Regions from separate parts of the Homo sapiens genome. Here regions 2, 3, 4, 5, 6 and 7 are each reported to be linked to region 1. Evidence: microRNA targets listed by miRTarBase, many of them from high-throughput screens and not tested one by one. Region 1 holds a microRNA gene; each other region holds the end of a gene's coding sequence.

Region 1 (4,119 bases):
GGTGGCCTCTGTCCCCATCTCCCAGATTATCCTGGTATGGAAGTGAGTCAGGTTCTTGTCTTAAACGTTGGTCTACTCGGTCTTGACAAGGTAAAGTTCTGTAGACTCCAGACAAAGCTAGGGATAGGATAGTACCTCTCTTGTATCTCTTCTAGAACCTTCTTTTCACTCTCTCATTTAGCCTTGGGTTGTTTTTCTCTTTCACACACGAGTGTCTTCACATTTGGGAGTCTTGCCCACCCTCAAGCTCGTGGGTTAGGAAGGGGCTTCCCTACATGGCCCTACGTCTGTGCTAGTCTCAGGGTGGCCTCTGTGCTCCTGCCTACTTCAGCGACTGTGGGAACCCATCTTCTCTGAATGGACTGACACACGTGCGCCAGGGCTCGGCTGAGAAGGCTGAAGGGCAGTGTGGACAGCCAGATTATTCACCAACCGCTGGACCAGGGACCTGGGTAGATGTTAATTTTTATTTGCTGGCTCATAGAGAGAGGTTCTAGGGATGTGGGGAGAGGGGCCGGGGCAGTGGATGGTGGCCGGGAGCACTGAAGGACTTGGGGCAGCATCTTTAGCAGCTGGCCTCAGAGTGTGCTTCTGAATAGGTACTTGATTACGTACCTCCCCTCCTAAGAGTAGTAGTTTATAATACTGTTGGGGTCCAGGACCCCTTTGAGAATCTATGGATCCTCCCACACAATGTGAAACCATGGCCGTAGGTAAGGCCAACGTTCTCTTCTATCGCTGCAAGCTGGTGACCCTCAGCTGAGCCACCCTGCAACTGGGTGCCTGAAAGCAGATTACACCAGCCGGGGGGCCATGGCTGCATCAGTGCCCCCATCTCCTACCAGACTTGGGCACCTCCCATCGACTCCAGGAGCTCCCCAGCTCCTGTTTCTACTCTGAAGGAGAGGCTGCATTCTCAGCTCATGTGGCGAACAGGAATAGTTGATATTCCTTTGCTCAACTGACCTGTTTTCCTATTTTCCCACCCAGATTTTCCATTCAAAAATCTCTTCAAAAAAGTGCTTTGCAGAGCTTGCTCTTATAGTCAGACAATATTGAAGTCCTTTCATCTTGCACCATGCAGCCTCAGAGTCTCCACCCAGGGGAGAGTAAGAGTCAAAACCTCAACTGATGGAAACTTCTGGTAGAAAAAGCCTTCCAGAACTGCCCAGAGTAAGCACTACAGTCACGAGGTTTTGCCACAGAGCGTATAGGCTCAGCTAGAGCATTTTCAAGCTGTTTTTCTGTGGCCTTGCTTGGTGGACCTCTGCTTTTTGACCTCAAGTTTCACAAGTGCTTTAAACATGAAGCAGTGTTTTCTTGGCAGCCATGTAACGGTCTCTCAGGAAGTTGTTTCTGGAAATGGAAAGACTGTTCTCAGAACTTGACAGTTCTTTAGGGCTCCAGTTATTCTGAATGTTGAAGCCAACTGGACAATGTATGACGCAAGCCTAAGAGGGATAGGGATGTAGCTGTAGGAGGGGCTTTCTGATCCTTCTCTCTCTCCATTGTATCACTCTGCAGTTTCCCTGTTGATTCTCCAACTTTGCCATCTGCTTGGCAAAATTCAAGAAAGGTGGCACTTATTTAATTGATTGTAGCTTTCATGGCAGTCACACCTTCCAAGCCTTCCATCAGGCCAGCCAGGCATGATTTCCTTTGTTTCAGTCCCTCTTGGTGTTCTCTAATTAAATATGCTTTTTCCAGATGTTTCTCCACCGTATTCTTTAAGGTTGTTTCCACCATTTTTCCCTAGATCTAATGTCCATTATTTTGCCTTTTGCCCTTCTCTTTTTAGTAATCAGTTAATAATCGTGTTTGCCATGGGGAAGTCCTCAGGAATACTTCTGTTGTATTTCAAAATGAGCTGAACAGTTTTTTTGTTGTTGTTGTTTTTTAATCTCAGAAGTGTGTGGCTTAAAAGAAAAGTAAAGAAATGATATGAAAGTTTAACCATAGATGAATATACTTGGAAAAGCACAAGTAGATGAAGACTGGGGATGGGAGTGGGCATTAATCAATTAATTTAAAAAGCACGATAGGGTGGGCGCAGTGGCTCACACCTGTAATCCCAGCACTTTGGGAGGCTGAGGCGGGCAGATCACGAGGTCAGGAGATCGAGACCATCCTGGCTAACATGGTGAAACCCTGTCTCTACTAAAAATACAAAGAAATTAGCCAGGCGTGGTGGCAGGTGCCTGTAGTCCCAGCTACTCGGGAGGTTGAGGCAGGAGAATGGCAAAAACCCGGGAGGCGGAGCTTGTAGTGAGCCGAGGTCGCACCACTGCACTCCAGACTGGGCGACAGAGCAAGACTTCATCTCAAAAAAATAAAATAAAATAAAATAAAATAATTAAAAAGCACAATTAGATGAAGACTGGGGGTGAGAGTGGGCATTAATTAATTAATTAAAAAAGCACAATTAGATGAAGACTGGGGGTGGGAGTGGGCATTAATTAATTAATTTAAAAAGCACAATTAGATGAAGACTGGGGGTGGGAGTGGGCATTAATTAATTAATTATAAAAGCATAATTAGATGAAGACTGGGGGTGGGAGTGGGCATTAATTCCTCAACAGCACATGGTATTTTTCAGGTTTCTCCCAATGAGTTCAAAGAGTTTCATTGAAAGTATATCCTTGTAGTTGCTAGTGTCTAGGAGACACACTCAGACTTCCAGTTTTACTCAGCACCTACCACCTGTACTCTTCTGAGGTTCTTTGCCATTCCTGCTGGTCAGGAGTGGATACTGGAGCAATAGATACAGTTCCACACTGACACTGCAGAAGTGGAGATCTCTGGAGTCTCTGCAACCCCACCCTCTCTTCACAGGGAGCAAGTTACTTCTTGAGTATAACCTGGGAATTTTAGAAAGTTTATCTTTTTTCATAAATGAAAGTTTATGTTTTAGCATTGTACTGGTCAGAATCCTCCAGTATTTAAGCAAAACTAACCAGTACGGTCTTTGTTTAGTATACATGTATTTTGCAATAACAGGAGCAGTCATCACCATTTAGTGTCAAGCTTGATTGACAGGGCCCCTGGGAATCTGTGGTTTCTGTTGTGTAGAAACCACAGAGCTTGTTATTCTTCAACTGGAATTGGGAAGCGGAGCCCAAGAGAAATGTTCTTGACCTTCAGTCACTAAGGCGTTACTACCAGACTGCTGGCAATCCATCAATGAGCGACTTTGTCACCCAAGACTCCGAGCTTGTCTTCTCCCCAGACTGGACAAGGCACCTTCACGCAGAATAGTTTCAGGTTTCACTGTGTTCTTAATTACATTTAATGAGGATCATTGAGATCCTTATAAAAAGGTGAAAACAGGTACAGCTGTTATTGTATTCCACTAAGAAAATGTGTAGAGTGCAAAACAGAAGTGTAGGCCTCATTGTGGTACAATTGAGAGACCATGCCTTGGGCCCATGGGCTTTGATGGCGGCCACATCTGATTGACTTCTGGTTATGAAACTTATTAGCTAAACCAGGCTCAAAGTAATGAACCTCTTATAAGTCTTATCAGTCAAATTAATGAACCTTAGTTTCCTCATCTGTGAGATGGTCTCAGTAATACCAATGTCATAGACAATTAGCTGTGTACATTTCTGTAGACATTATATGAAATGTTATATGTGAAACTGCCTGCAATATAGGTACTCAATCAAAAAAATGTGAATTTTCATTTGCTCCCTGCAGTCTTACTATCTGGCTGCCTGTTACTTTGAAAACCATGTGTATGAAACAGTAACAGGCTACCTAAAAAGAAAAAAAGAAAAAAGAAAATGATGTGGGACCACATCTGTGTGTCTAGCAGGCATGGACCTTCCCTCTGGATCTGTTTGTTCTGACCTTGTCTTCTAATTGAGCTGGATAATTACATGGTAGGAACTCTCCCCAACATCAGGGCCGAGAAATGCTGTCACCATGTTTTAATGCAAAGGCACTTTGCCAAGGATAATAGTCGATACCACGGGCATTGTTTTAGGTGAGATAAAGGAATCATCTGTGAATGAATGCTGTGTCCCTTTAGAGAAGGAAAAAATGAATCGGCAGCCCCAACAGCAACCCAATATCCAAAGACTTTCAGTGAATTTCATTTTGTTCATTTTTCTACCAAAT
Region 2 (4,119 bases), not on the chromosome of region 1:
TTCTGAAAGTGAATACTTAGAGCAACTAAAATATGCATTTGTATTGTATCTTACATCAGACTTTCTGAGAAATGAACAAATAAAAAATGTTCTTTGAATTAGAACTCTAAGACTCTGTAATATTGAATTCTGCATCACCTGTAGAAAATAAAAACTCAGCCTCCCCAGAAATGGATGTTTTGTTTCCATATAACTACAACATAAGGTACCAAAAGTTAATAACTGCATAATGCCCTGTGTGAACATTTTGTGTCTTACCTCCATTCTAAATTCTGTTCTCCTTCTCTTGGGTCTTCAGGATACCGGATGTCAGCTCCCCAGCACTGTCCAGAGGATATTTCCAAAATCATGATGAAGTGTTGGGATTATAAACCTGAAAATCGCCCTAAGTTCAGTGAACTTCAGAAAGAGCTCACTATCATCAAGAGAAAACTCACATAGTGACAGGATGGCGCCAAACTCAGCCTTCAGGACTCTGTCCTCCAGCAGAGTAACATTATTGTTCTCATTAACAATGAATTTATACCACATTACCTTCGACAGTCTTCTACCATTATTTTTTATTAACTGGGTGTTTTAAAAGTACGTTCCACTTGTAAAAAGTCAAAGGCAAATTTGTTAAAGAAATAGGCAGTCCTACCAAGGGCTTTCTTAGCTAACCATAGCAATCCTACCATTTCAGGCCATTGCAAATAGAAAAGCACAGGCTTCTAAGTGTGTGAAGGATAAAAGATCTATCCTATCCTTTTCACACCTTGTTTCTACTTCAGGCACAGTTTGTAGGCTGCCATCCTATGCCACAGACCCTACTCCGTTGGTGCTATAAACAGCATTGGTAATGCCATGTTTGCAGGACATGTTCCAACCACAGCTGGCTTTCACCTCTGCCAAAGCAGGATTATATTTGTAAACAAACAAACAGAATTTTATATTGGGAATTATTTGGACCTCCTGAGATTTTTCTTTTCTTTCTTGCCAGGTATAAGCCCAATGTAAGAATCATCATGCTCCTACATTATTTGTAAGGTTGTCATTTTCCTCCTCCTTTGTCTGGGCATCAGAAAACAATGCACGTAGGTCGGGCACGGTGGCTCACGCCTGTAATCCCAGGCATGTAATCTCATGCCTGGGATTACAGGCGTGAGCCACAGTGCCCAGCCCCCTCCCTCCTTTGGGAGGCTGAGGCAGGCGGATCACCTGAGGTCAGGAGTTCGAGACCAGCCTGGCTTGCATGGTGAAACCCTGTCTCTACCAAAAAAAAAAAAAGAAACACACACACAACGCATGAAACGTCGTCAAAGTTAGAGTTGAGGCAGTTGCTTTTCAAGGATGTACAGAGAGCTGTGAAGCAAGAAACAGATTTGAACAGGAGGGTGGGCTGGAGAACAGAGCAGCTAAAGAATGATTAACAGAGTAAAGAAGAAAGTGAAAATATAAAACCACCTTATCAGAGTTATGCCTTTCTAAACATCTAAACAAACAAACATTCACATATTCTATTCTAAAAACACATAATAATACATATTCTATTTTATGGTCTGAATTTACCAGAAAGGTCCTAAGAAAAGTTTCAGGAGTTCGTAGAGTCCTCGTAATGGCAACAAAAATTTTGAGAGAAACTGCAAAGCACAAATCCACAGAAATAACAGCATACTTTCAGTTAAGCATTTTCACCTTAGAGGGGGCATTCCAAAATGTAATTTCCTTTATTTGTACCAGTTTTTAGAGCTGTCAGAATTTCATGATTCTAGTTCACCAACACATTCACGTGTGTACATGCGCGTGCACACACACCACCAAGGTGCAAGACAGATGTGAATGAAGTAGACAGTCTAGAAGTCAGGTGAATATTAATGAGAAATATGACATAGGGACAGCCCTCCCATTTCTACTTCCACCTTCATTGACCATTATACTGCCCCCTGGACATTCTTACCATTAGCTGACAGGTATGCAAGCAGAGTGCTGAAGATGTCTCATGTGAATAAAATGTAACTCACTCACTCAGTTAAAACTAGGATTCTGTATCTTAACTCTTATCTAGGGAACTTACTTACTTACCCCATGATCTGTATATAGTTGCCTCTCAGGATAAATGCATATATAGAAGATGGTCATGCTCAGGGCTAAATATGTTCTGGAAGCCTTTTATAAGTTCTCAGGCCTGTGTCCTGGTAAACATTACCTTAGTGATTATTTGGTCTGCATTCATTGGAAGAGCTTAGGGATAGAAAATGCCTCCTGCCCTCTCCAGCTGTTTGCTGCCTGTACCATCGCACAGAACTCACACCAGTACTTTAGAGTATGAAAGATAATACTGAAGAGAAAAGTGACTTGTATCTAACATTTCAATCTCCTTGCAGATTTCATACATACTTAATGATTAGTACATTCAGACTAAAGGGAAATTTCTTTTGATGGCACGTACTATGGTAAATCAAAGCGCAAACTCAGAAGTGCTATGGTATTGAGGCACTTACCAACCTTCAAAAGTAAGAGTAAAATGGGATATTCCTACCCTTTTTTTTAGTATTTCTAAGTGAATCTCTGTAATATTCTTTGTCTGTTTAAAGAAAACAGCCTCCCATCTCATAGTGGCTTCATGCTAAGCTCTCAGCAAGGAGAGAGAATGATGGTTTTGGCTTTAGTTTTATGAACAAGACCTAAAGCTTAATCCTGACATTCTGGTGTTAAGAATGAACACAGCATTGATATTTCACTTATCCAGGCTGTTAGAATTTGCAGTTCACATCATTACTCTGTGCTTAAATTTAAAAAGCTTTTCAAAACATCGTGACATGTGTAGCATTTAAATTCCATTTTATTCTTTGTCCTAAAGCAGGCAGTGGTATAGTTCAGGATTAATAACTTATTGGGAGTCTCTCAGTCATATAGAATATTAAATTTAATATAGTCACATGCATTAAGAAAAACTTACGCAAACAGTTTTTCACTGTTAATTTTGTTGTGCTTGAAGCATAATTTATTCATCCCTTCTGTCACTGATAATTAATTATTGGAATTATATACTTTAGGAGGCTAATCCATGCCCAGGAAGCACGAACATACTGTTCAGAATGTGCAAGTTGATGTAGGGAAAGGAAGATTCAGAAATGTACAAAATCCTGTGATTTGTTTAGTAAGAAAAGAGTTGTAACCAAAATTTCTTCTGGTCCGGATGTAATTAGTCCAGTCACAAATCTTTGTGTTGTTAATGGATTATTCAAGATATATATATATATTCTTACTACTGCATAGTTCCTCTCATAAGTCCTTAAATTTATTAAAAGGGGGAGGTAAACACAAGCAGTCTGTGTCTCACTGGTCACTAAGGGGCCTTTATGAGACAGTTTAGGTTGTTCATCATTTCACAAGGAAAGAAATTTTTCACTGTTAAATTAACATTTATTACCAACATGTGAAACCTAAAATTAATTTTGCATTCCATGTAATCTAAGGCCAAAGCCAACATATTCTTTCTCTTCTGGGAAAATAAAATTGACAGGTTTTGTTTAAACTTCAGAAACTGAAGCTTTATTTCAGCCTGTCCTGCCATGAGGTCTCCAGTGAGAGGTCTCCAGTGAAAGGTCTCATGTAATTGTTTCTCTTTTATCTCCCAAATTTAATGTGGGCAATAAAATTCTCCTTTCGTAATTCACTGTTTTATTACAAATACGATATTACTGAAACATCTTATTAGCAGATAAGTATAGACCAGGAGCCTAACTGTGTTAGATATTTTCAGTGCACATTTCACAGTTGTTTTTCATTTTAGGATTATTTTGAGAAGAAAAAATGTTTTGTAATTGAAATAGTTTTAATTTCCTTTAAACCATAATTTGGTTTTTCTATCTATATTATATTCAGTTCAGTTTTCCCATATAACTTTTGTGAAGATTGGCTAGTACCACAAAATAACTATGGCTTCACAATACTAGTGTTAGATTATGTCAAGAAGAAAGTGTTTTAGTTACAACATACGCCACCCACTGAGGACCTTGTAGTGGGATAAACAAAAATTAAAATGCAACAATCCAAATAAATTATAATGTAACAATACAAATATCTGAATCATAAGTCACAGTTTTTCAGGGTTCTTTCAGTCACACCACTTTATAA
Region 3 (4,119 bases), not on the chromosome of region 1:
GGCAGGGTGTTTGTGTATTGATGTATTTCAAGATCTAGAACAGTGTGCTCAGCACATAGTAGACCATATGTTTTGATCATATGAATGAATGCCTGCATCCAAGAATGTTCTTACAGTCTTGGGTGGTCTTGGGGGTCAGCCTTTGGTGGGGAACCAACTTGGGAGAAGGAATAGCTCTGACGGCTGCTGGGTATTGGCTACCTGAATAATAAGGGCTCTTGGAGTCATTTAGCACAAGGGTTTTTCACCTGCATTTAGAGAAAAAAAACAAAACACAGATCATAGGTCATATAGCTGCCAAAAAGATCTTGTCTGTGTTGGTAGCCCAGACTCAAGTTCCAGCCCTGTCACCCCCAGACTGCTCTGTTTCTGGCCCCAGGCCTGGCGTTCATGGCGGCTGAACTCATGGTCTTTCCTGTCCCCTTCTTTTCCAGTTCTCAGAGTACATTCACGCCCAGGTGGCATCTGGCAAAGGGAAACTCGCTCCTGGCTTTGATGCTGAGCTGATTGTGAAGAATATGTTCACCAACCAGGACCGGAATGGAGATGGGAAGGTCACAGCCGAGGAATTTAAACTCAAAGACCAGGAAGCCAAACACGATGAACTCTAAACCTGGCATGAACCAGATGGTGCCAGGGAGTACGTGACACCAAGCCACCTGTGTGGCAAGACGTGCAGTGAGGGTGCAAGGGTCTCTCAGAAGTTGCATCATTAGCCAGTAGTAGGTGGGTCACATAGTACCTGGTGTACACATCGGGGTGGGTTGATATATGGGGTGAGAAGTTTGGGCTGATCGCCAGTGATAGTAAACAAAATCTGTGCAGAGGGCCTTAGCATGGGATGTGTCCAGTATTGAAAAGGCTGCACTGCCAACCATGATTTGTGAGCCTTCTGGGAAATTTTGTTATTAAAGGAATATATAGTGTCAGACGGAAGTTATAATCATCTTGGAGGAACCATAAGAAAAGGTGTCCAGGGTATCTATATAAAGAGGGTTAAATTTTTTTTTAACTTGCTGGTTAAAACATTTTAGAAATATTCTAGAGATGGGCAGGAGAGTCAAAGGGCTTGCTTGCCCCAGCAGAGTTCCCAGCAGACAGCCATGGCTCTTCCCAGCAGCCTGTGCAAATTCTGATGATGGCCCCACCCCCGCACACGCACACGCACATCATGCTTTTCCAGCTCATCACACCCCGCCCCACTATGGGCCTACCATTAATAGTGTATAACTTGGAGGTTAAAAGAGCCTTTTGGACAGAAAACTGGGCCAGGAAAAGGCATCTCAGACCACAAATAGAGAATTTGATTCCTCATTTGCCACATAAGTCATCTGCTTAGCTTTTCCTTTCCTTTTTTTTTTTTTTTTTTTTTCTGGAGGCAGAGTCTCCCTTTGTCGCCAGGCTGGAGTGCAGTGGTGCCATCTCGGCTCACTGCAGCACTGTCTCGGCTCACTGCAGCCTCCGCCTCCCGTATTCAAGCGATTCTCCTGTCTCAGCCTCCTGAGTAGCTGGGACTACAGGTGTGCACCACCACGCCCGGCTAATTTTTGTATTTTTAGTAGAGACGGGGTTTCACTGTGTTGGCCAGGATGGTCTCAATCTCGACCTCGTGATCCGCCCACCTTGGCCTCCCAAAGTGTTGGGATTACAGGCGTGACTCACCATGCCCAGCCACTTAGTTTTTTCTTATTCCCACCTTTCTATCCCATAGAACACTCTTTTTTATCTTCCCTGAACCATATTGATGAGATAAATAGGGCTGGGGGCTGGGCCCCGCTGGTCACTCAACAGAGTATTTCCCTTGGCCGAGATGGAAGTTTTGTCCCAATAGATGAGCTGCTGAGCATCAACAAGGTGACATTTTTCTGCTGCCCATTTGTGTCCTGGAGACGGTGGTACCCTGAAGGCAGAGGCCAGCTGCCGCAAGACAGCAATGACAGTCCACCTGCCGACCTGATTCCTGCATCATGGAATAACCACATGGCTACCTTCTATCCTCTGTTCCCAAATGGTGGTGGCACTTATCCTGAAGTCGTCAATGATTTCCCTTTGAAACTACTTTATTTTACTAATTTAAACTATTTTGTACTGATGTAGCCCTGAGGTAGTTCATGAAAATGCTGTGCACTCATTCCATGGAATAAATGTTGGAAAGCTGATCTTTTCTGATATAAAATGTTGAATGATATTATCTGGTTTTCTGATATTTTATTGGAAGGCTGAAGACCTATGAGAATGCACCATGCAGTCAGAATCCCCTTGATGAAAACAGCAGGACTTCACTGCATTTACTGAGGGAGCGCACTCTACTTATAGGGAGTGTCAGTCAGGGTCCTGGCCCTCCTCTGGGACTCCTGAAGAGAAGCTAAGGAAAGGACTGTTTAGAGGGGTGTGGGCGAGGCTGGGGGAACTGAGGCTGTTGAGTGCCAGTGACAGCAGTGTTGGCCACCGCAGGAGGCTGCTACCACCAGGGCCTGAGAGCTCAAGAGGAGGCAGTGGGAGCAGCACAGGAAGGGCTACCTGGAGGCGTAACAGAGGGATGCAGCCAGCTGCATCTGACAGTGCGGCTGACACTGCAGCAGAGCGAGGGACAAACGCCCCATCCCCTCTGTGCCCCCATTCTCTGATGCCTGCCACTGGCTCCCATTAGTGGAACCATGTTGGAAGCCAGAGGGTAAGAGGAGCTCAGAGACTGGAGTTCTCAGAAGTCAGCCTCTTGAGTGCAGAGAAAGGTGGAGAATGAATCTGAGGTAGGGATGGGGTGGGTGGGAGCAAATGGAGAATTACTGGCACATGTATAGAGAAACTGTGTGTGTGTGTGGTGCAATTATATATTTAAAAGCAATTATTTTAATATATATTAATAAACATAAAATATATGTATTATATATACATAAAGTTGCTGTTAAAAAGCAAATGTTGGCCATGTGCAGTGGCTCATGTCTGTAATCCCAGCAGTTTGGGAGGCTGAGATGGGTGGATCATTTGAGGTTCAGGAGTTCAAGACCAGCCTGGCCAACATGGTGAAAACTCTTCTATACTAAAAATACAAAAAAAAAATTAGCCGGGCATGGTGATGGGCGCCTGTAATCCCAGCTGCTCAGGAGGCTGAGGCAGGAAAATTGCTTGAACCCAGGAGGCGGAGGCTGCAGTAAGCTGAGATGGCACCACTGCACTCCAGCCTGGGAGACAGAGCAAGACTATGTCTCAAAAAAAAAAATTTTTTTTTTTTTTGCTTCTTGCTAAGTTGAATTGGGCTTTGGAATGCATTTGACTTCATTAGCCTTACCCGCCTTATGAAAAGAAAAACCTTGTGCTTATCCTCTACCGCAGATTTTTATTTGCCTATTTGAATTTCTTCACTGGCTGTTTTCTGTGATGGTGGAGACAGACGGGCTGAATCAGAAATAAGTTTCTTGGCCAGGGGCAGTGGTTCATGCCTGTGATCCCAGCATTCTGGGAGGCCAGGAATTTGAGATCAGCCTGGGTAATATAGCAAGACCCCATCTCTAAAAAAATTTTAAAAATTAGCTGGGCATGGTGGCATGTGCCTGTAGTCGCAGCTACTTGGGAGGCTGAGGAGGCAGGATTGCTTGAGCCCGGGAAATTAAGGCTGCAGTGATTTGTGATTGCACCGCTGCCCTCCAGCCTGCACAACAGAGCGAAACCCTGACTCTAAAGAAAAAAAGGACATGGACCTTAGAACTTCAGGAATGGAGAGAAGCTTTGGCCTGCTGAATTCTGCCTAGGCACTTCCATTCTTCCCGTTGCCGAGGAGGGCATTCAGTGATCAGGCGCGTTTATCTGTCTGCAAGGGGAAGCTGCTTAGCTGGCCCCACTTTATGCTATGGCTGCAACACTTGCTTCTATTTACATTATGGTTATGGGCTATAGTTCTGCCAACAAGGCTGTAAATACTAAATAAGGGGCCAAGTACAGGGTAGAGATGCCACACAGCAATTTTTGTTTTTGTTTTCTAAATCAGTTCTCACCTGAGACAGCACTTTTTTTTTCTTTTTTTGAGACAAGGTTTGTCACCCAGGCCGGAGTACAATTGTGCGATCACAGCTCACTGCAGCCTTGACCTCCTGGGCTTAAGCAATCCTCCCATCTCAGCCT
Region 4 (4,119 bases), not on the chromosome of region 1:
TCATGCCTTTTTAAATTGGATTAATTCTTAAGTATCTGATATCGTATGCTATTATACATGCACTATCAAAATAGACTGTGAGCCTGGGCAACATAGTGAGACCCTGTCTCTGCAAAATACAAAATTAATGGGGGCTGGGCACTGTAATCCCACACTTTGGGAGGCTGAGGCGGGAGGATCACTTGAGGCCTGGCGTTTGAGACAAGCCTGGACAACATAGTGAGACCCTGTGTCTTAAAAAAAAAAAAAAAGCCTTGTGTGGTAGTGCGTCTGTAGTGTGGGGGATGGGGGTGGGCTGAGGTGGGACGATGGCTTGAGCTCAGCAGGTCGAGGCTGCAGTGAGCTGTGACCGTGCTTCTGCACTCCAGCCTGGGTGACAAGAGCTAGACTCTGTCTCAAAAAAACTAAAACAAAAACAAAAGTTGTGTCCAGGCCAGGTGTGGTGGCTCATGCCTGTAATCCCAGCACTTTGGGAGGCTGAGGCAGGCGGATCACCTGAGGTCAGGAATTCAAGGCCAGCTTGGCCAACATGGTAAAACCCTGTCTCTACTAAAAATACAAAAATTAGCCAGGTGCAGTGGTGCATGCCTGTAATCCCAGCTACTCGGGAGTCTGATGGAGGAGAATCACTTGAGCCCGGGAGGCAGAGGTTGCAGTGAGCCGAGATCACGCCAGCACACTCTAGCAGATCACGAGGTGAGGAGATCGAGACCATTCTGGCTAACACGGTGAAACGCTGTTTCTACTAAAAATACGAAAAATTAGCCGGGCATGGTGGCAGGCGCCTGTAGTCCCAGCTACTCGGGAGGCTGAGGCAAGAGAATGGTGTGAACCTGGGAGGTGATGCTTGCAGCGAGCCGAGACCGCGCCACTGCACTCCAGCCTGGGCGACACAGTGAGACTCCGTCTCAAAAAACAAATAATAAAATAAAATAAAATAAAATAAATGAAAAAAATCTTTAAAAACTCTAATGACTTTATTTTTTTTGGTAGGGACAGGGTCTCACCATGTTGCACAGGCTGGTCTCCAGCTTATGGGTTCAAGCGATCCTCCTGCCTTGGCTTCTCAAAGGGCTGGGATTACAAGTGTGAACCACTATACCCGGCCTCTAGTGACTTTTTTTTTTTTCTTTTCTTTTGAGACAGAGTTTCGCTTTTTTTTTTTTTTTTTTTTTTTTTTGAGACAGAGTTTCGCTCTTGCCCAGGCTAGAGTGGTGTAGTGGCGCGATCTTGGCTCACTACAACCTCCACCTTCCTGTTTCAAGCAATTCTCCTGCCTCAGCCTTCCAAGTAGCTGGGATTACACGCGCCTGCCACCATGCCTGGCTAGTTTTTGTATTTTTAGTAGAGATGGGGTTTCACCATGTTGGCCAGGCTGGTCTCGAACTCCTGGCCTTGTGATCTGCCTGCCTCGGCCTCCCAAAGTGCTGGGATTACACGTGTGAGCTACCACGCCCAGCCAGTTTCGCTCGTTTTGCCCAGGCTGGAGTGCAGTGGCACAATCTCAGCTCACTGCAACCTCCGCCTCCCGGGTTCAAGCGATTCTCCTGCCTCAGCCTCCCAAGTAGCTGGAACTACAGGTGTCTGCCACCACGCCTGGCTAATTTTTGTATTTTTAGTAGAGACAGGGTTTCACCATGTTGGCCGGGCTGGTCTCAAACTCCTGACCTCAGGTGGTCCGCCTGCCCCGGCCTCCCAAAGTGCTGGGATTACAGGCGTGAGCCACAGTGCCCAGCCTTCTGGCCATGACTTTTTAAAGAAGATATTTGAGGATATGTTTCACCAAATGAGGGTGAACTGAGAAATAGGAAGCCATCAGGCCCAGGAATCAGGATCTAGCCCAGGAGAGAGGCAAAGGCAATTTACCTGGAAAACAAACAGTCCTCAGTGAAGCAGGGGATGAAGGGAAGTGTCTAGAAAAAAGAGGAGCTGTCAGATGGTGGGGGAAGAATTAGCAATCAGTCCATCAGAAAACAAAGTAAATGAGAAACTCAGGGCAACTCATTAACTCCATTAAAAAGAAAGTACAAGGAAGGTAATTTAATTATAGTCCAACTCTTGGCTCCGCAGTTAACTTTCACATAGTAATAGAAATAGTAATCTGAGTATTTTTTAACCTAATAACTAGGGATGGGGGAGGGTTGCTGACAAAAGAGAGCTAAAGCCTCATGTATGACAACAGGGAGTCAACAGGTAATGTCTAAGATTGATATATCAAGCAAGAGTCATATAAGCACATTTTAAAAATAGCTGAATGAACTGGAAGTGACTGCTGGGTAGGGGAGCAGTACTAGAGAATGGGAGAGACTGTTTTCTTGTTACAAACTGTGTAATTCCACATTAGTAAGTGGGTATGTGTTTTTAAATAAGTATGTTTTAGAAAGACACCAATTCTCCTTGTCCTTAATGTTCACAATTTCTCTCTAGTGTGTGCACTGGGCACCCTGCACTGTTTCTTGCTTCATGTTGCTTTATGAACACTTACTGTCCTCATGGCACGGTTCATGTATTTCTTAGTGGTAGGTACATAATATTACATTATATAAACTTACATCAGGTGCTGGGCATATGTCTCCCATTTCATCCTCAGAAATAGCTATGACAAGAAAGGCCCCGCCTTTCCTGCTAATTCTCACGATGTGACCACTGCCCTGGGAACTTCCCACCCACATGACTGATTTGGGCTCCAGGATGTAGAAGGGCATCTATATGGGCAGTTCTGGACTTCTGCCTCCCGTGGCACTTCTCTGGAGCCCCAGAAACGCCTCTCCTGGTGCGCCTGGCCCTGGCTCTGCTCTGTCACACTCTGCCTTCCTCTCCTGGGCTTGCTTTCTGGGCATGAGCATCCCTGTCAGGAGCAGCTGCTGTGTGATCTTTAGGAGCTCTAGTGGGGCTGGAGCCACCAGCTCCCTGCGGGGCACCCTCTGCCTCCTGCACCCCCTTCTCCCTGAACAACCTTTGTGTGGCATCGTAGGCCTAAGACTGGCTAAGTCTAAGATTTCAGAGAAGTTTCCTGGGGAGAGGAGGGCTATTCCCTGGGTTTGCTCAGCTGACAAGGAGAGAGGAGAGCACGTATTTTGCCCGCAAGCTGAGTGGGCTGCAGCCCAGCCTCCGGAACTCCAGGGAGCAACAGGAGGCTCAATCTCACCCAAGAAGAGCTTCTGATTTCCCTGGCCAGGACTAGCCCAATTTTGGCCTTGGCCTGCAGCAGGAGATGAGTGATGTGCATGAGGGACGTGGCAGTGGAGAAAGGCTGGGCCTGTCCTGCTCAGCTCACTTTGACCGCTTCGGAGCTCTGATCTGAGCCCAGTATGGTTTCTGGAAAAGGCTGGGGAGGGGAGGGCGTAGTAGGACTTCAGTGGGACCATGCTGGGTTGGTGCTGTGGGAGGAGTTGAGCCGCCCTAGGTACTCACTAACCTGCTACTATAGGCCCAACAGTGGGGGTGGTGAGGAAGCGGGTGCTTAAGAGAGGGGAGACGAGCTGTCGCCCCAGCACACTGCTGCATGAGGAGTGGGCCTGGGGCCACTAAACCCGCCCAGTTCTCCCTGGCTGATTGTGCAGGGGCTTTCACAGCAGCTCAGGTCTCAGGCGGCCGCCAGCCCCTCGCTCCCAGGCATGTTGACGTGGGCACTCAGCAGGGGTGCACTTTGGCCTTCTCGAAGCACCAGCACCTATGGAGGAGTGGCCATGGCAGCAGGGGGCATACACCCCTGACCCCTTGCCTGGTCTGCGCTGGCCCTAATGACAGGCCACAGGGCTCCACTGTGCAGATACCCCCACCCCCACCCAGGAGCCCCCTAAGGTCTTTGTTGGCACTCACCCTTACTGTCCTCCCCAGGGTCCTGCTCACCTTCCACGTGGTACAAGTGCGGGGCCTACCTTGATGATGTCTGAGATGCCCTTGTTACTGAGACTCTCCACAAAGGTCTCCAGGGGGTAGTTGAGCCCTGGCACCAGCAAGGGTACCTAAGTTTGGGGACAAAGAAGTAAGGAAACCAGCCCTCGTGCCAGTGTTTGGCATATTCCAGTGCATTCAGGCCCGCAGTCTCCACTGAGCCTCAGCACCCCTGCAGGGTGGGCAGGACAACTGCTGGGTGGAGGAGGATGCAGGTGTGGT
Region 5 (4,119 bases), not on the chromosome of region 1:
ACATTGTGCTTGCAAACAATTAAAGAGACATCTCTTTTAAAAAAATAACAGGGAAGATGTCCCTCTTGTAGACCACCCAATTCAGGCTTTTCACTTCCCCTCATAACGCTGTTTAGAAGGTAGGTGATTTTCTGCTTTATTTCTCAGGAGTGCAGCCGGGGTCCCATTTCTCCAGCACATCCTAAGCTCGGGCACACAAAGTCCCAGAGGCACACAGCTTCAGTGCCTTGGGGATAGCAGATTCCAACTCTTGGGCCCCTAACTCAAAATCCCCAACAACCCTCGGTCACCTGTGGCTCCAGTCCTGTTTTGGTTTTCCACAGATCACAAAGGCATCAAGGAAGAGGCTCACGGTAAGCCTGGCCTACTCGGAGAGCCACCAGATCCGCGTGTCCCAGCAGGACTTCCGGCTCTTCCGCACCCTCTTCCTCCTCATGGTCTCCTTCTTCATCATGTGGAGCCCCATCATCATCACCATCCTCCTCATCCTGATCCAGAACTTCAAGCAAGACCTGGTCATCTGGCCGTCCCTCTTCTTCTGGGTGGTGGCCTTCACATTTGCTAATTCAGCCCTAAACCCCATCCTCTACAACATGACACTGTGCAGGAATGAGTGGAAGAAAATTTTTTGCTGCTTCTGGTTCCCAGAAAAGGGAGCCATTTTAACAGACACATCTGTCAAAAGAAATGACTTGTCGATTATTTCTGGCTAATTTTTCTTTATAGCCGAGTTTCTCACACCTGGCGAGCTGTGGCATGCTTTTAAACAGAGTTCATTTCCAGTACCCTCCATCAGTGCACCCTGCTTTAAGAAAATGAACCTATGCAAATAGACATCCACAGCGTCGGTAAATTAAGGGGTGATCACCAAGTTTCATAATATTTTCCCTTTATAAAAGGATTTGTTGGCCAGGTGCAGTGGTTCATGCCTGTAATCCCAGCAGTTTGGGAGGCTGAGGTGGGTGGATCACCTGAGGTCAGGAGTTCGAGACCAACCTGACCAACATGGTGAGACCCCCGTCTCTACTAAAAATAAAAAAAAAAATTAGCTGGGAGTGGTGGTGGGCACCTGTAATCCTAGCTACTTGGGAGGCTGAACCAGGAGAATCTCTTGAACCTGGGAGGCAGAGGTTGCAGTGAGCCGAGATCGTGCCATTGCACTCCAACCAGGGCAACAAGAGTGAAACTCCATCTTAAAAAAAAAAAAAAAAAGATTTGTTATGGGTTCCTTTTAAATGTGAACTTTTTTAGTGTGTTTGTAATATGATCAAATTTAATAAATATTTATTTATGACTGTTCAGCAATCACATCTCCTACATATAAAGCCACACCATAGTGGTTTCTGAAGTGAGTCTTAGAACCGATTCAGGACGCAGATTTCTCCTCTGAAGGGTCACAGCCACCCTGTGCCCTACCTTGGACTCGCAAGGGTTTAGGATCATTCGTTGATGTCAAGAGCAATTGAAGAATTTCTAAGGAACAGTTAAAGATGACTTACTTTTTTTTTTTTTTCATTTATAAAAATGCTATGGACCCTTTTAAGAGAATCGGCATCATGAAATGAGAGAGAAAGTAGGATGGCTCTGAAATGTTTGAGAGTGAGTTCAGGAGTGGTTTACTCCTGACGCATCCAGCAGAGATGCCTCTTAAGCACCAGCCATGGCAGACAGTGTCCTTTGTGCTAGGAATACAGTGGTGAACCAGACAGCCATGGCCCTCTCTCAGGGAACTTACCTTCGAGTCAGGGGCAGAAAAACTAAATAAAAGTCAATAAACTATATCTATATACAGATACCTATATATTTGAGATGAGGGTCTTGCTCCAATGCCCAGGCTGGAGTGCAACGGCACAATCACGGCTCCCTGAAGCCTCAAATGCCTTGGCTCAAGCAATCCTCCCGCCTCAGCCTCCCAAGTAGCTGGGATTACAGGCGTGAGCCGCCACGCCTGGCTACAAGTCAATAAATAGTATAGCATCACAGAGCGAATAAGCACTGTGAAGAAAATGGGACGGGGGCTATGGTAGTGATGGGAATTTAGATCAGATGGGGAGGGGCCTAAGGAGACCTTTCTGAGGAGTGACAAATTGGATCAAAAGGTAAGCGACAAGAAAGGGCCACCTGTGTGAATGGGGGAAGGGACACAGAAGAGATGTTAGTGCAAGGAGGCTGACACGCTTGAAGGGAGAGTGGCGTAAGCCGACTATTGATGGAGCCTCCTCTGCACTAGGCACTGCCTTTAATGCTGAGATGAGGGGTACCCGGCTGGGGCCTGTCAGTTGAGGCCAGAGAAATTGCAGGGTTAGATCACATAGGGCCTAGGAGTTTATTCTGTTCTCCAAGCCCCTGGAGGTTGGCAACTGGAGGCTGACGTGACCTGATGAATGTGTGCAAAGATTACCCTGGCTGCTGGGCAGGGAATAGACTCTGAGGAGCATGAGTGAAAATGGAGACCAGTTGGGCAGCTGCTGAAGTGTGACATGGGGATGGGACCTTGGAGGTGAGTGGCATTAGGGAGGGATTGTGAGAAATGACTTGTAAATATACCTTGGGAAGGTAAAACAAAGATGATTTATTGATGGGAAGGATGGAATTGATAGAATGTGAGGGAAAGGGAGAACTCAAGGGGAATACTCTGATTTTTTAGCCTGTCATTGGTTGGATGGTGAAGCAGGCAACAAAAATGGGGGGGCCTGGGCAAAGATTAGGGGGGGGGGAGCCAAGAGTTTCATTTGGAGCTCATCAGTTTGAAATCTCAGTGAGACTTCCAAATTGAATAGGCAGTTGGATGCAGAGATGTGGAGCTTGGGCCTGGAGATGCACATTGTTTGGAGATATAAATGGTGTTTATAGACCTATGGTTTTATAATACATCCCTTGGAGAGATAGAGAGAAACCAGAGCCAAAGACCGAACCCAGGGTCACTCCACCACTTGGAGGCTGGGCCAGTGGCTGGAATGCACAGCAGCACGGGGCCTGGTGTATAGTAGGTGTTCAACAAATCTTTGTTGCTGAGGAAATCAGCACCAGCAGTAGTGACTGCTTATGCAGTTTCTGGAGCAGCTTGCTTCTGAAGTCAGATTCATGGATATCACAAGCTCGAAGACAAACGAACAGAGATGTTTTGCTCACTTTAGTTAATAGATTTGATCAATTAAACCTGTTTTTGGAAGTGATGTGTGGCTATCTTATTGAAGCGGCATTGCTGTCTGGGGTAAATAACCGGGGTTTGTCATCTTGCGCCAAGAGGATTAAGGACACGGACATATGTGGGTGGGTTAAGGAACAGAATGTTTAATAGGCAGAAGAAAGGAGAGAGGAGAGCAGCTCTCTCTCTCGTGAGACAGAGGCATCTGAAAAGGGAAAAGTGGTGGACCACAGCGTATTTTATAGGCAGGCTTGAGGAGGTGGTGTCTGATTTACATAGGGCTCACAGATTGGTTTGACCAGGTGTGACGTTTACGTAGTGCACGAGAAAGGCTGGCCACCCCACCCAAATCTGATTATGCAAATGGACTTTCCACTTGGCCATCTTGTCTTCTCCTTACTGCACTCATAGCTGGCAAAAAGAGAAGACGGAGCCGCCATTTTGAACATGCTTAGTCTTAGGTAGTACATTCCAATGGACACAACTGCTGGCATTCACCCATGCAAGCTTCCAACTTGCTTGTCTATGTCTGCAGCACGATTTTACAGCTGCTTTTTGTTAGAAAAGGATTTAGGGGCTGCTTTTCATTAAAAGGAAAATCTTACCAAGGACTTCCATACCCTCACTATCTGCCCGAGTAATTTCTTTTTAACTCCTATATCATTATGGTTCTCTGAGGTTGTCAAACTGAAGCTGCGGAGCAAGGCTCTGACAGCCTGTGGTTCCGTGAGAGAGGAAGGCAAAGCTCTCCCATGCACATCACCTGTCTCCTCTGTCTTTGGTGGAGAACACTAGCATGGGGCCCCCGGGAGCCTCCCACGGTCCCTGGATATTCCAACACCCAGGCGGAGATCTGTGACCCTTTCCTCACTCCCAGTGCATTTCATAGACATCAGCCTGGCATCACCGGTTTCACAGCTCCCCAGAGCTCTAAGGGACATTGCCTAATTGAATCCTCACTGCAGCCCATC
Region 6 (4,119 bases), not on the chromosome of region 1:
TCCCATAGTGCGTGTTCACAGCTTTTCTGCCCTGTCCTCTGCAGCCACCTGGAAGGGAAAATGGCAGCCACCAGCTTCCCTGAGGCCTGAGCCAGCTGCCGAGGTTTGGGATTAGCTGTAGGTAACAGGAGTGATTCTAGCCTCACTTTTCTAATTCTAGTACCAAGGGAAGAACACCTACCTGGAGAAGATTGACGGCTTCCGAGCCTATTACAAGCAGTGGCTGACAGTGATGCCCGCAGAGGAAACCCCGCACCCCTGGCAGAAGTTCCGGACCAAGCCCCAGGGGGACCAGGACACCGGCAAGGAGGCTGATGACGGATGTGCCCTTGGGGGCAGGTGATGGGAGCACAGCTGGAACAATGTGCTCGGCCCCCAGTGCTCTGTGGGAGCCCCAGGACAAGTGAGCTGGTGTCACCTCCTGCCTGGGGGAAGAGCCAGGCCCTGAGGAACAGCCGCAGCGTGTCACAGGTGTTGGTGAGGACACACACTAGGCCCAAGGTGCCTGTGCTCCCAGCAGGTCCAAGTGCAGCTCCAGCCACCTTTGCGTGTCACCTTCACGGGACTTCCAGCTCCAGCTACCTTTGTGTGTCACCTCACACACCACAAGGGGGCTGGGGCATCTGGTCCCTGGGGCCTGGGCCGCCCCGCCGGGTTCCATAGGCCGATGCTCTGAAAGAAGAGACGTGGGGCTCGAGAGATTTAAAGATTTTATTTTTACAAATCACAGCTGATAGACAGCGAAGCCTTCCCCATAGAGACCGTGCTCCAACTCGGGCCTGGGGCACTGCTCGCTGCTCCCAGGAAGGGGGTGGCGTGACAGGCAGGAACCTGCGAAGTCCAGAGTCCAGGGTGGAGCGCGCCAGCCTCAGCCAGAGCAGCCACGACAGCCACAGTGTGTGCACTCGATGATGCGGCCCTGCAACGGAGGAGGACAGTGAGACGATGCCACTGCGCCACGCTCGCCCCTGCACACTCACATATGTGGCAACCCTCCCACGAAGGACCTGCCACCATGCCATATAGGGACACACCTCAGAAACCCTTCCTTGACAGCTCTGGACAGGGAAAATTTGGCTCCCTCATGAAGGTAGAACCAGCTGCTGTTGACACCGAGGTTACATCTGTATGTCTATTTATAATATGTTCTGCAAATCCAACACACGTTTGCCAATCAAGAAAAAGAAATCGGTGTGAATGAGTCTCGTTATTCTGCTAAGTGAGCATGACAGACCCTGCGATGAGCAGACGTGGCTCTGCTACTGTTTGGGGACTTCAGGGGGGCCTCTGGGCTGGTACACTCTGGTGGGGGAAGAGGGCAGGAGACTATGCACTTGAGTCACACCCTTCTGGCCCAGAGCCCCCCAGAAAGAAGGGTCTTGTCCCCCAGGCCTGGTGCGGCCCAACACTTGGCCAGCCAGAAAGCCCTAGAACAGTGGCTTGTGTTTATTTTACTTTTTCAAGTTCTTTTTTTGGAAGAACAAGACCATAGTTTAAGTAAACAGGATCCTCTGGTGAAACCCAGGTAAGTCTACAGCGGGCTGTTTTGGCCACAGGGCTGAAGCAGCACCCCAGCCCACCAGCCCCTGACCTGGACTCCTTGTGGAATCTGGGCACTCAGAGGAAGGGGGCTTCTGCCACTCTGCCACCTGTCCCTGCCTCCATCAGAAAACCAACACCCCAGTCTTCCGTCGGGGAGGCGGCCCTTGCTCGCCCCCACTGCTCAGTACCCAAGTCCTCAGCATCCAGCCACAGCTCTCCATTGTCAGTCTCACTGCAGCATAAAGGGGACTCATGTGAAGAGGCCCCTGTGTGGAGCTGGGGAAAAGAAGGCCAGGCTGGCAGATGGGCGGTGGGGCCAACAACTGTGCTGAGGGGCTGCACTGAGCGGCCACTGCTGTGACTCTGCCTCGGGCCACAGCTGCCTTTCAGAGGGGCTTGGAACCGGATGGAGCTCAGCTCCTGTCCCTCAGCACCACTCCTGAGGCGCCTGGCCTAGGAGTGGTACTTGGAACAGAAAGTTCTGAAAGAAGAAACACAGTGGGCTGGGCGCAGTAGCTCATGCCTGTAATCCCGGCACTTTGGGAGGCTGAGGCGGGTGGATCACCTGAGGTCGGGAGTTCGAGACCAGCCTGAGCAACATTGAGAAACCCCGTCTCTACTAAAAATACAAAATTAGCCAGGCGTGGTGGTGCATGCCTGTAGTCCCAGCTACTCAGGAGGATGAGGCAGGAGAACCGCTTGAACCCGGGAGGTGGAGGTTGCAGTGAGCCAAGATGGCATCACTGCACTCCAGCCTGGGCGACAAAGCAAGACTCCGTCTTGGGGGGGCGGGAAAGATAGTGATGGTAATGTTAAAGTATCACTGTGAGGACTGAAAGGGACAGGAACTCACTGGTTGTCCTTCCCTGATGTCACCCTGCCACCACCTTGGGATTAGGGCTCCCCACCACCATTTCCTAAGTGAGGAAAGGGGTTCAGTAATTTGCCCAAAAGTGGAGTTGAGATTGACCCCAGACCTAACAAACACACAGCCACACGCTGCCTCACATGGATTCCTGAATACAGGGACCCACTCCCACGAGGGAGAGCCAGCAGGACATCCAGGGACAAAACGACATTCCAGCCCAACCAAATAACATAAGATCCCTTGCAGTCGACTAAGGCAGAATTTTGAGCTGAAAACAACACCAAGCTTGAGTGTCAGACATTACCACTTCCAGCTTGCTTTTGGGCACGCGGCAGATGCAGTTCGTCCCGAAGTTGGTGTCCCGTGTCTGAATGCACCGCAGGCAGCACAAGTTCTCATATCCTTGCTTTTTCCATTTTGCAATCAGGTTTTTGTCTGCATAGCCTTCTTTAATACAATATTCATAGAGTTCTGTCAAAAAGATGGGGAAAGAGCATCAGGCCATGGTCTAAAAACCTTCCCCACCCTTGATCAAAAAAAGCATTCAGGCCGGGTGCAGTGGCTCACACCTGTAATCCCAGCACTTTGGGAGGCCGAGGCAGGCGGATCACCTGAGGTCAGGAGTTCAGGACCAGCCCGGCCAACATGGTAAAACCCCGTCTCTACTAAAAATACAAAAATTACTCGGGCGTGGTAGCAGCTGTAATCCCAGCTACTTAGGAGGCTGAGGCAGGAGAATCACTTGAACCCAGGAGGCGGAGGTTGTAGTGACCTGAGGTCGTGCCACTGGACTCCAGCCTGGGTGACAGCGAAACTCCATCTCAAAAAAAAAAAGGCATTCAGTATTGCAACGGGACAGTCCTTGGAGGAGGAACAAAAAAAAAAAGTACTTAGGCCAGGCAAGGTGCCTCACACCTGTAATCCCAGCACTTTTGGAAGCCAACGCCAGAGGATCATTTGAGTTAAGAAACCAGCCTGGGCCAAGGGCCCATCTCCACAAAAAATTTAAAAATTAGCTGGGTGTGGTGGTGCACACCTGTAGTCACAGCTACTCAGGAGGTTGAGGTGAGAGGATCCCTTGAGCCCAGAAGGTTGAGGCTGCAGTGAGCCATCATTGCACCACTGCACTCCAGCCTGTGGAACAGAGCAAGACCCTGTTTCAAAAAAAAAAAAAAAAAAAAAGCCAAGAGCGGTGGACCACGCCTATAATTCCAGCACTTTGGGAGACCGAGTCGGGTGAATCACCTGAGGTCAGGAGTTCAAGATCAGCCTGACCAATATGGTGAAACCCCATCTTTACTAAAAATACAAAAATTGGCCAGGTGTGGTGGCAGGTGCCTGTAATCCCAGCTACTTGGGAGCTGAGACAGGAGAATCGCTTGAACCCAGGAAGTGGAGCTTGCAGTGAGCCAAGATTGCGCCACTGCACTCCAGCCTGGGTGACAGAGTGAGACTCCATCTCAAAACAAACAAACAAAAAACAAACACACACACAAAACTCAGCCAACGTTGGCTCCCCCTAATTTTCGTGGTAAGAAAAACCATGACTTGCACAGGTTGCGAGAATAAGGATTGTGGTTAGTTCAGTAACTCCAAAAGTGACGCGAGCTTCAAAGTCCAAGAGAGACTGACTAATTACCTCTGCTGATGGCTTTCCGCTTGTAAAAGAGGTCGAAGATGTAGCGGGTTTTCTGGTGGTGGATCCTGAA
Region 7 (4,119 bases), not on the chromosome of region 1:
TAAAAAAGTAGATTTACATACCAGAATGGTTGATTGGCTTCAAACCAAACAGTCCAATAACTGACGCATTAAATCTTTATTGACTAAACAGCTTAAAAAATTACTACTATTTCCTTTTATTTGTTGTTGTGAATTTTACTCAGAATTAAAGATAAATGATTAGTAATTACAGGAAAACTAACTTGTAAAAATCTTAAAGACATTGAATGGGTTAATGTACTGAGCAGCTACGGAATGCAAGGCACTGTAGGAGTAGGGTGAGTATACTCCCCACAAGGGCTCAGGGTCAGGCAGGGGAGGTGAGATAAAAACCCACAGCCATACACTAGCTGGCCTGTCCTGAGGGTTGTGAGGCACAAAATGCTAGGAGACTAGAGAAGTAAGAAATGTCTTGACATGAGGAGAAATCAAGGAAAGCATGGTTTTAGAACATGTGTGGGATGTTTTTTGTATCGAGACTGAAGAGGCTTTTTAAAGTGGAGGGAAGGCAAACTGAGGCATAGAGATGCCAATACCAGGTCTTGTCAGGAAGAACAGAGTCCAATTTGGCTGCAGGATAGGGCATATGTAGGGGAGGGGATAAGACTGGCATGGGGGCAGAGGGGGACTTGAATGTCAGGTGACAGAGTCAAAGCTTGCACTCAAGTAGGTGATTGATAGGTGATCTTGGGGGCTTTTGAGCAGGAAGAGTGATAAATCAACATTGGCTTAGGACAATCCCTTTGGCTTTGGCGAAATTGTGACTCAGGTAAGGGACAGTTGGGGGAGACAAGGATGGGAAGATGCATGATAAATGGGCCCTGAGCTTGGCAGGCAACAGGAAGGCAGTGCAATGTTTTGTAGAAATAGACTTAGCAGAGCAGGCGCCCAGCATTCAGCGAGACCACAGATTCTTAGCCACTGTATGACTTGAAGGTGATACTAACTCCCCTGAACCTGTCTCATCTACAAAATGGGCATAGTAGCACCTATGTCATAGGGTTGCTTTATGGCAGGTAATTATTCTTGTAAAGCATTTAGCACAGCTCTGATGACACATGGGGAATGCTCAGTAAATATTAATGTCACTAATTCCAGTCAATTCCATTAACTGGAATTAATTAGTTGGAGTTAGGAAGGAAACAGGTGTCAGCTGGGTCGACTGAAGGAAGCAGAGATCTCAGGAAGCAGTACATGGTGGTACAGTGGGAGCATGGCATCTGTGGGGGAGACTGTCTGCAGTGGGATCCCACCTCTATTGCTGGCCAGCTGTGATCTTGTACAGGATACTTAACCCCTTTCTAGCTCAGTTTCTTTAGCTGTAAAGCCAGCGCAATGTTACCATGGAGCTGGTATGTGAAAGCAATGCATGTTAAGTGTGTAGTATGTGCCTGATACATTGTTAGTGCCCAGTAAATGTTAGTTATCAGGTGAGGGGTGGGATGTGGGGTTGAGTAGATTTGCCTCGTCCACTCATAGAGGCAGGATGTGCAAGGAGGGGTGGAGACATGCAGCAAGGGATTGGGCATGAAGGTTTTCTCCAGGCCCGGGGAGAACACTCGGCCTGGAGATATTCAGGAGTCCCTGGCCCAGAGGAGATTACAACTCTGCAGGGATATGAGCCACGAGTGGAGTGTAGACATAGGCCTAAGGAAGCAATCAGACACTTCCAGAATAGAGGACATTTGCTAAGACAGCTGGCCTGGATGCTTCAAAAAGTATCATGGGAAAATATGTTGGGGTTGTTGTAGACTGAAAGTGACTAGAGTTGAAACCAAAAGAATGTATGAACCTTGATGGGACCTGGTTGTTGTCGTTGTTTTTAAAGACAAACATTCTGGAGACAATTGTTGAATACTGATTAAGGGCTCTGTATTAGAGGCTATAAAGAAGTTACTGTTTATATTTTTAGGCATGATCATCTTAATGTAATCATGTAGAACGGTGTCTTTGTGCTCAGGAAATCTATGTGGTAATACTCAGGGGTCGAAATGTCATTCTATGTACACATGCATGGGGTGGAGAGAATAGTAAATCTGGCAAAATGTTAACAACTATTCAATCCAAGTGGAGAGTATGTATCTGAGTATTCATTGTGCTAGCCTTTCAACTTTTTCTGGATGTGTGGAATTTTTCAATATAAAAAAATAAGAAAAAAAAGAGGCCTATGGAAAAACTGGGAACCAGTATGCAACAGGAAAAGGAATTCTTTGAAGGAAAAACAGGATCCACCTACCAAGAGAGCAATTTCAAGGGAGAGATTAAGCAAAATGAAGGCTGCAAATAGATCATCATATTTGGTCACTGGGAGATTGTGGCAGCTTGGAAATAGTCTGGTGAAGCATAGAAAACTGACATGCACCCTAGAACTTAAAGTATTATATATACATATATATATATATATATATATGTATATGTATATATGTATATATATATGTATATATGTATATATATATGTATATATGTATATATATATGTATATATGTATATATATATATAATATATACACACATAAAGAAAAAAAGAAAAGAAAACTGACCCAGAGTGAGGGAGTAAAAACTGGGGAGGAAGGATAGGCAGCCAGGACTTGTTGGCCCTTCTGGGTTAAGTCTTTCTTTTCAGTAAGAAAGGGAGACTGCACATTGCTGAGGAAGAAGAGCCTGGGGGAAAGGGAGGGACTGAGACAGCGAAAGGGGGAATACTACAGGAGGAAAGACCCAGTAAACGTGGGAGAGGAATGGGATGGAAAATGACAGGTAGATGTGGCCTTAAGCGGAGGGATGCTTTCCCCTTCAGCCCAGAGGTGAGCACTATGACGACATGTGGGGAAGAAGCCCTCTTCCTAGTGACAAGGGGATGAGGTGATGTCTTGCTAAGGTGGCAGATGTGAGGCCTGAAAGTGGACATATGTGCCACACTTGTCATTAGGTCTGAAGCAAGGGAAGGATGGCCGAGGGGAGACAGAGTGCACCTGGTATTGGTTGAATAATATGGGCAGTAAAAAAGCGGGCTCTGGGACTGCCCCGATGAGGGCTAGAGATGATGCGGGTCTACAGCAGTCATGGAAACTAGAGGGGACGTCCCTCACCCACCCTTCAGAACTTGGTGTTGGGCAGATTATGCATTAGGAACTCTTTTTTTTTTTTTTTTGGGTAAAAAGCTTTCTCATTTCCACGCACCCTCCACCTTGGGCTGCTGGGTGTATAGGCACATGGTGTGATAAGTCTTTGGTATGGAATGAAGCTCTATCCTTTCAAAGTCACCAGGTTCGGGTTCCCAGCCCTAAGTGGCCATGGCACTGGGTGGTCTGGGTTCACGGGGCTCCTGGAGCTCTCGGGTGTCCCGTGTGCCACCCCAATTCCTTGCGTGCATGCCCACGAAAGGCCGCCCAGGCACCCCCGGTGACCCCATGGAAGTGAGTTTTGGTTCTGCTCTGGCTTCGAAGTGCTTCTCAAGCTGAAGCCTTAGGGTGTGGAAGATCCTACAGTTAGCTGGAGCTTCCGAGTGAGTAGCGGCTGCGGGCCTGGCTTCGGTTACGGCTTCGGTCCCAGCGGGGTCTGAAGGCATTGGCATTGGACGGAGAAGCGCTGTCCTGGGGTGGGGAAGTGGCCACACCCCTACAGGAGGACCTTTGTGATGACGCAGCCGTCCCTGTCACCCTCGGGGTCGTCCTTGAGCGGCGGCGGCGCAGCGGGGGCCCAGCCCAGGGCGCCCTCACGGCGGCTCACATCCCGCAGCCGCGCCTGCAGCGCCTCCCGCTCGGCCTGCAGTTCCCGGCGCGCCTGGGCCGCGGCGCGCTCTTCCTCCTGCAGCGCCCTCCGCCTCCGCTCCAGGGCGCGCTCGCCCTGCTCCACGGCCAGCTCGCGCCGCTCCAGCTCCCGCTCCCGCCGGCTGCCGCGCACGGCCAGCGCGCCCATCTGTTCCAGCAGGCGCGCCCAGTCGCCCTCGGGGGCCGCAGCGGGGCCGGGCGGCGGCGGGCAGGGCGCGGCAGGTGGGGAGCTCCCGGCGCCGCTGCTCTCCAGCTCCCGCCGGTGCGCGCTCCTCAGGTGCCTCCACAACGCCGAGGTCCCCGCGTGGAAGCCCGGGCCGCGGCCCACCTGCTCCCCGCACAGACGGCAGGTGGCCCAGTGGCCCGACGGA

What was found. The annotated mature microRNA hsa-miR-3692-5p reads CCUGCUGGUCAGGAGUGGAUACUG and lies in region 1 at 2,729-2,752, shown strand. An mRNA with a match to its seed (bases 2 to 7 or 8) in the 3' UTR can be bound and repressed. Matches are read on the target gene's strand: a 7mer-m8 pairs with bases 2 to 8, a 7mer-A1 pairs with bases 2 to 7 and ends in A, and an 8mer does both.
Region 2: the mRNA of FER is a reported target of hsa-miR-3692-5p. Seed matches in the 3' UTR shown: 8mer at 483-490.
Region 3: miRTarBase lists FKBP9 as a target of hsa-miR-3692-5p. Seed matches in the 3' UTR shown: 8mer at 1,079-1,086, 8mer at 1,091-1,098 and 7mer-m8 at 1,114-1,120.
Region 4: miRTarBase lists BBS1 as a target of hsa-miR-3692-5p. Seed matches in the 3' UTR shown: 7mer-m8 at 2,270-2,276.
Region 5: miRTarBase lists FFAR4 as a target of hsa-miR-3692-5p. Seed matches in the 3' UTR shown: 7mer-m8 at 938-944, 8mer at 1,632-1,639 and 7mer-m8 at 3,027-3,033.
Region 6: miRTarBase lists PTCD1 as a target of hsa-miR-3692-5p. Seed matches in the 3' UTR shown: 7mer-m8 at 514-520 and 7mer-m8 at 2,592-2,598.
Region 7: miRTarBase lists ZBED3 as a target of hsa-miR-3692-5p. Seed matches in the 3' UTR shown: 7mer-m8 at 3,172-3,178.

The regions. Positions count from the first base shown.
Region 1 is chr6:157,526,409-157,530,527 of GRCh38, forward strand. It overlaps MIR3692 (microRNA 3692), which reads left to right and starts at 2,724; the gene lies at 2,724-2,792. The region is part of intron 1 of ZDHHC14 (zDHHC palmitoyltransferase 14); the gene reads left to right.
Region 2 is chr5:109,187,135-109,191,253 of GRCh38, forward strand. FER (FER tyrosine kinase) reads left to right here. Exons shown (of 20, transcript NM_005246.4): 20 at 299-4,119. The coding sequence ends at 441. Among named protein-coding and RNA genes, the nearest start is that of PJA2, 220 kb to the right of the region's middle.
Region 3 is chr7:33,004,741-33,008,859 of GRCh38, forward strand. It overlaps FKBP9 (FKBP prolyl isomerase 9), which reads left to right. Exons shown (of 10, transcript NM_007270.5): 10 at 435-2,188. The coding sequence ends at 611. Among named protein-coding and RNA genes, the nearest start is that of FKBP9, 49 kb to the left of the region's middle.
Region 4 is chr11:66,531,505-66,535,623 of GRCh38, reverse strand. BBS1 (Bardet-Biedl syndrome 1) reads right to left here. Exons shown (of 17, transcript NM_024649.5): 16 at 3,882-3,968; 17 at 2,026-3,673. The coding sequence ends at 3,587. It also overlaps a transcript of ZDHHC24 not described here. Among named protein-coding and RNA genes, the nearest start is that of ZDHHC24, 12 kb to the left of the region's middle. RefSeq lists an enhancer at 3,671-4,119.
Region 5 is chr10:93,586,897-93,591,015 of GRCh38, forward strand. FFAR4 (free fatty acid receptor 4) reads left to right here. Exons shown (of 3, transcript NM_001195755.2): 3 at 324-3,176. The coding sequence ends at 713. Among named protein-coding and RNA genes, the nearest start is that of RBP4, 12 kb to the right of the region's middle.
Region 6 is chr7:99,416,191-99,420,309 of GRCh38, reverse strand. PTCD1 (pentatricopeptide repeat domain 1) reads left to right here. Exons shown (of 8, transcript NM_015545.4): 8 at 161-3,571. The coding sequence ends at 343. BUD31 (BUD31 spliceosome associated protein) reads right to left here. Exons shown (of 6, transcript NM_003910.4): 4 at 4,050-4,119; 5 at 2,715-2,881; 6 at 694-919. The coding sequence ends at 869. It overlaps ATP5MF-PTCD1 (ATP5MF-PTCD1 readthrough), which reads left to right. Exons shown (of 9, transcript NM_001198879.2): 9 at 161-3,571. The coding sequence ends at 343. Among named protein-coding and RNA genes, the nearest start is that of MIR12119, 9.1 kb to the right of the region's middle.
Region 7 is chr5:77,073,578-77,077,696 of GRCh38, forward strand. It overlaps ZBED3 (zinc finger BED-type containing 3), which reads right to left. Exons shown (of 3, transcript NM_032367.4): 3 at 1-4,119. The coding sequence ends at 3,597. Among named protein-coding and RNA genes, the nearest start is that of SNORA47, 4.9 kb to the right of the region's middle. RefSeq lists a silencer at 3,861-4,119.